2 separate regions of the Homo sapiens genome follow, and region 1 is linked to region 2. A link means that fine-mapping ties the variant in region 2 to the plasma level of a protein whose gene starts in the linked region. Region 2 holds a variant in brackets. A gene starts in the other region. All regions are shown on their reverse strands.

Region 1 (2,913 bases), not on the chromosome of region 2:
AATTAACCCGTAAGAACCTAGTGCAGGACAAATGAGAGTTAGCTTCAAAGCAATAGCCTTAGGTGGGTGCACTGTTGTTCCAGAGATGCTGATGCTACACCAAACACTGACACCAGCCCTTAGATTCTCCCCCCAGGACAGGCCTGGTGTGATTCCCATGTTGGGGGTGCTAGGGCAGGAGGCGGCCTTTTAAGGAAACTGAGTCTCAGGGACAGGAACCACCTGGCAAAATCACACAGCTACTCAGGGCAAGAGCAGAAGCTGGGGCTTTGATTTCTCCGCTGGAAGTCTCTCCCACACCGGCGGGCCTCTCATCCTTCCTTAGCCTCACATGCTACATTGGAGATAGACTATTCTGCTCTCATCTGAGGCCATGGTTTATTCAAGACTGGCTCAGAATGGCTTTGGACTATTTGGACTATTTTCTAAAATAACTAAACCCATCTCAGGAGGAGGAAGCTGGGGATGTCCAAGGGAATGTGCCCATGCATCTGCCTGGCAGTGGCCGGGCTTGGAGTAGAAGCTGAGTGCACCATGATCACTGCCAAGTGCCGGCATCAAGCATTTGGTTTCTACACCAGCTTCACGCAGAGGACAAGGGCCAGCCATTTTCTGGTGGAAGAAAAGGTCTGAGGCGAATATTCCTTTTTTTTTTTTTTTTTTTTGAGATGGACTTTTGCTTTTGTTGCCCAGGCTGGAGTGCAATGGCACGATCCCGCCTCACCGCAACCTCTGCCTCTCTGGTTCAAGCGACTCTCCTGCCTCAGCCTTCCGCGTAGCTGGGATTACGGGCATGCACCACCATGCCCAGTTAATTTTGTGTTTTTAGTACAGACGGGGTTTCATCATGTTGGTCAGGCTGGTCTCAAACTCCCAACCTCAGGTGATCTGCCCGCTTCGGCCTCCCAAAGTGTTGGGATCACAGGCGTGAGCCACTGCGCCCGGCCGCAAATATTCTTGTATTGGGAGCCTTGGGCTTTTTAGAGTCACCTCAGAGGTTAGTGGGGTGCTCTACGGGAGCCTGTTTAAGAGTCTGGAGTCCTTAGTCTAGGTTTGCGAAAGATCTTCCAGAAGCGAGATCTATTCAATTCTGAAGAAATAACTCAGGAGGTCTTTCAGAAACTCCTTCCCGCTGGACCTCACGGGACTCTCCTGGACTCGGTGGGTTGAGGTTTGATCCTCTTTGCAGGCCAGGGGATGGATTAGGTGACCCCAGAGGAGCCCTGCTGACACCTGGATTCCAGCTGCTTTCGTGGCCATGTGGGGGTGGCTGTGCGTGCCCCGCCACTGCGTGCGTGGGTGTCTGTGTGTGTTATCGGTGGGGGGCGCGTGAGTGTGGCCGCGGGTGGGTGTGTCCGATGTGCCCCGGCTTGGGACCGCGCCCGCTGCGCCCACTTGTGGCTCCTGGGAGCCGCCAGGGGGAACCGCGCCTTCACCGCCTCTGCCGAGGACGCCGCCAGATAGGAGGCTGATGACATGAGGGCTCCGTCTCCCGAGTGATGGCAGCGCGCGCTGCTTCGCCGCCTCCGCCGCTCAGCCCCGGACTCCTTACGTCAGGGTAGCGGGGTCCCCCCTCCGCGCGGGAGCCAGCGAACAGCGAGAGAGCACAGCAGAGCGCGCCGCGGAGCCGGGGCGCCCTCACTGCGCTAGGAGCCCCACTAAACCCAGCGGAGCGGAGCCTGGCGGGAGGCAGCGCCGCGGAGCCAGCGCCGGACGCCGCAAGCAGACTCCCCGGCCAGCGCAAGCACTCCCTGGCCGGCGCCGGACCCTCGGGGCGCCGGATTCGTCTTGTGTGCCCCACGTCATGCGCGCGGGCGTCCGCGGCTCTCCCGACCAGCCCCAGCGCGGTGGGCCCAGGCTCAGAGGTCCCGGCGCCTCTCGCTGAAGTAGTTGGGTAGCCGGGGCTGGGGGTCGCCACGTCGGGGGCGCGGCCAGGACCCGCGGAGCCGGTCCCCGAGCGCGGGGAGCGGGGCCGCCCGCGCCGCCCCACCATTACCTCCCCGGGCGGCAAGGAGGAGCTGGTGGCGGTCGCCTCCCGGCTGTGGCAGCGGCGGCGGCGTGCCTGCCTGGCGGCCGTCGGCGTACTCTTGGCCATGGCGCTCGGGCTGCTCATCGCCGTGCCGCTGCTGCTGCAGGCGGCGCCCCGAGGCGCCGCGCACTATGAGATGATGGGCACCTGCCGCATGATCTGCGACCCTTACACTGCCGCGCCCGGCGGGGAGCCCCCGGGTGCAAAGGCGCAGCCACCCGGACCCAGCACCGCCGCCCTGGAAGTCATGCAGGACCTCAGCGCCAACCCTCCTCCTCCTTTCATCCAGGGACCCAAGGGCGACCCGGGGCGACCGGGCAAGCCAGGGCCGCGGGGGCCCCCTGGAGAGCCGGGCCCGCCTGGACCCAGGGGCCCTCCGGGAGAGAAGGGCGACTCGGGGCGGCCCGGGCTGCCAGGGCTGCAACTGACGGCGGGCACGGCCAGCGGCGTCGGGGTGGTGGGCGGCGGGGCCGGGGTAGGTGGCGATTCCGAGGGTGAAGTGACCAGTGCGCTGAGCGCCACCTTCAGCGGCCCCAAGATCGCCTTCTATGTGGGTCTCAAGAGCCCCCACGAAGGCTATGAGGTGCTGAAGTTCGATGACGTGGTCACCAACCTCGGCAATCACTATGACCCCACCACGGGCAAGTTCAGCTGCCAGGTACGCGGCATCTACTTCTTCACCTACCACATCCTCATGCGCGGCGGCGACGGCACCAGCATGTGGGCGGACCTCTGCAAGAACGGGCAGGTCAGTGACCCCTACACTCACCGGCCCCCGTAAACCCTCGCCCGCGCCCTGAACCTCCCAGGGAACCAGCCTCCTTTCTCTCCACCCGCGGGCTACCCTGCGAGCCCCGGGAATGAACGCGCCTCGGTGCCACAGT
Region 2 (2,913 bases):
CAGTGCCTGTTGAAATATTAATGAAAGTTGATTGTATATCATGATGCGCCATAAAACAACTGTAAATTTTAAAACATAAAAATAAGTAACATTCTTGGTTAATCTAGAAGTCTTTTTATTTCTTTTATTTTCTGTTTTTTAAATTTTTTTATTCTTTAGAGATGGGTTTCGCTATGTTGCTCAGGCTGGTCTTGAACTCCTGGGCTCAGGTGATCTTCCCACCTCAACCTCTCAAAGTGTTGGAATTACAGGCGTGAGCCACTGCACCTGGCCCAGTCAGTTTGGAAGTCTTCAGTGGAAGAATGCTTCTACTGGGGGACGCAGCAAGAGTTCCAAAAATTAGAGTTGCCGGATTTAGCAAATACAAATACAGGGTGCCTAGTTAAATGTGAATTTCATGTAAACAATGAACACTTTTTTTAGTTTAAGTGTGATCCAAATGTTGCATGGAACATACACTAAAATTATTTGTTGTTTACCCGAAAATCAAATTTAACTGGGCATCCTGTATTTTACCTGAAAACCCTAAATTAAGCTTGGAGGTTGAGACCTGTCAACTCTGGACCCTCATGCAAGTGAAGGTAAGGCAAAGAAGGAGTCCACTTTGATGGTTGGTGTGACTAATCCTGATAATGAAGGGAAAAATTAGATTGCTTCTGCACAGTGATGGTAAAGATGAGTATGTCTGGAATGCAGGGCACCCAGACATACTGGGTGCACCCCCTTACACTCCAATGCCCTATAATTAAAATCAACAAAAAACTATAATAACCCAAATCAGGCAGGACTGCTGATGGCCCAGACCATTCAAGAATAAAAGTTTAGGTGACCCCATTGGGCAAGGAACCAACGACAGATGAAGTGCTTGCTGAGGGCAAAGAGAATATGGAATAAGTAACAGAAACATCGTTATAAATATCTGCTACAACCACATGACCAGTTGCATAAACAAGGACCATAAAAGTTGTGAATATTTCTTTCTTATTTTAATATAAATGGACATTACATTAATTGTGTTTCTTTTTACCCCTTTCCTTCCCCTACTGTATAAGATGTGTTTGTAGTGGCTTACCTTACATCTCAATATTTAAGTTATAGAATATCAAAGGGGAGATATGACTCAGCTCAAAGGGAATTCTCTTTTAGGAAAAGAATTTCCATGTTTTTGGGTGTATGAGGGATAGTTGCATTATGTAAAATGTGAGTATTACTTTGCTATTGACTTTATTTGGAAATTAAGCTAAGTATGGTTAAAACTAGTGTATACAAATATCACATTTGACAAGGAGTGAGCTGTGGTAGATTTATGTTGTGTCAACTTAGCTAAGCTGTAATTATGTTTCCCAGAATTATCTTCCATACATAATGCCAAGTTAGTATGGCCCATAAAAGACGGTAGATGTGAATTAGTAGAGCCATACTCCATATGCTAGAAAGGTCAGGGCAGAGCACAGGATGTGACTGCAGTTCACAAGCACTGTTGTTTCTCTGTTCTATCACTTTGTTAGTAGAGGGCTCAACCAGGCCACAGCAGAGCCAGCTCCTGCAGGATCTCCTCCTTCATGTACCCTGGCTTCTGATCCAAGTACATTAGCACTGTGA[C/T]GGACAACTTCTACAGGACATACCCATTTTTGAAGTTGAAGGCTAAGGGGCAGTGAAAGAACAAGATGAATTCCAGTTTACAATGGTGGGCTTTACTCGCTCATCTTTGCAGGTTCCAGTTTGTCCTTGAAGCACTCAGTTCATGTCTATCTTCCCTTCCTGAGTCCCTGCCCTGCTTACTTCAGGCCACAGCAACAGACATTGAAGGAACAGCCTCCTGTAAACACCATTTAACTATCTCCCACACCTATGTCAAGTCAGGTCCCTACAATAAATCCTGCGGTTCTATTTCTCCAGGTAAATCCTGACTGACATAATTAACATAAGTAGATAAGAAAAAGAAAATGGAAATCTAAAAATTGGGAAGTAGGAGGTAAAAGAATCATTGAAATGATGTGATTACAAACCAGATAATCCTAAGAGAATTCAACTGAAAGAATTTTTTTAAATTTTTACAAATAATATGACATGGTTTGGCTGTGTCCCCACCCAAAACTCATATTGAATTGTAGTTCCTATAATCCCCATGTGTCATGGGAGGAATGTAGTGGGAAGTAATTGAATCATGGGGGCAGTTACCCCAATGCTATTCTCGTGATAGTGAGTGAGTTTCTCATGAGGTCTGTTGGTTTTATGAGGGGCTTTTCCCCCTTTACTCAACACTTCTCCTCCCTGCCGCCATGTGAAGAAGGTGCCTTTCTTCCCCTTTGCCTTCTGCGATGATTGTAAGTTTCCTGAGGCCTTACCAGCCATGTGGAACTGTGAGTAAATTAAACCTCTTTTCTTTATAAATTACCCAGTCTTGGGTATTTCTTCATAGCAGCATGAGAATGAACTAATGCATAATAAATTTAGAAAGTTGGCTGAGATATCAAACTAACATGCAGAAATCAATAGTAGATAGATGATAGATAGATAGATAGATAGATAGATAGATAGACAGATGATAGATAGATAGATGATAGATAGATAGATATAGATAGATAGACAGACAGACAGACAGACAGACAGACAGACAGATAGATGATAGATAGATGATAGATAAACTAGTTACAATACAAATTGGATAAATAATCCATTTAAAATACCAAAAACATTTTTTGTTTGGTTTTGCCAGAGGTTTAAACTCTTCAAGAAATGCAAAATCTATGTGAGGAAAGCTGAAACACACATGAAGAAACAAGGAAAAAAAGACTAAGACGAACTGAGGAAAGCATAGCAAAGGGTAGCAGAATATGCCAAAATAGACCAGTTTGGCATAAAGATTGTTTTTTGAGTTAAAAGCACTTGAAACACAGCAAGATGCAGGAA

Alleles and levels. Positions count from the first base shown, and alleles are read on the strand shown. Strength reflects both the effect of a copy and how common the allele is.
For the plasma level of the protein whose gene starts at base 1,612 in region 1, allele T in region 2 goes with a lower level than allele C (weak association).

The links. PIP is the posterior inclusion probability: the model's chance that the variant is causal. The UK Biobank Pharma Proteomics Project read protein levels with antibody pairs (Olink). The fine-mapping took linkage between variants from a reference panel, not from the people measured, so its PIPs are less certain.
Region 1: C1QL2 starts here. The variant in region 2 is fine-mapped to the plasma level of the C1QL2 protein (UK Biobank, PIP above 0.99).

The regions. Positions count from the first base shown.
Region 1 is chr2:119,157,450-119,160,362 of GRCh38, reverse strand. C1QL2 (complement C1q like 2) reads left to right here and starts at 1,612. Exons shown (of 2, transcript NM_182528.4): 1 at 1,612-2,777. The coding sequence starts at 2,094. RefSeq lists an enhancer at 2,434-2,913.
Region 2 is chr1:207,117,843-207,120,755 of GRCh38, reverse strand. The region is part of intron 4 of C4BPA (complement component 4 binding protein alpha); the gene reads right to left. Among named protein-coding and RNA genes, the nearest start is that of C4BPA, 15 kb to the right of the region's middle. The variant C/T (reference allele first, on the strand shown) is at 1,603.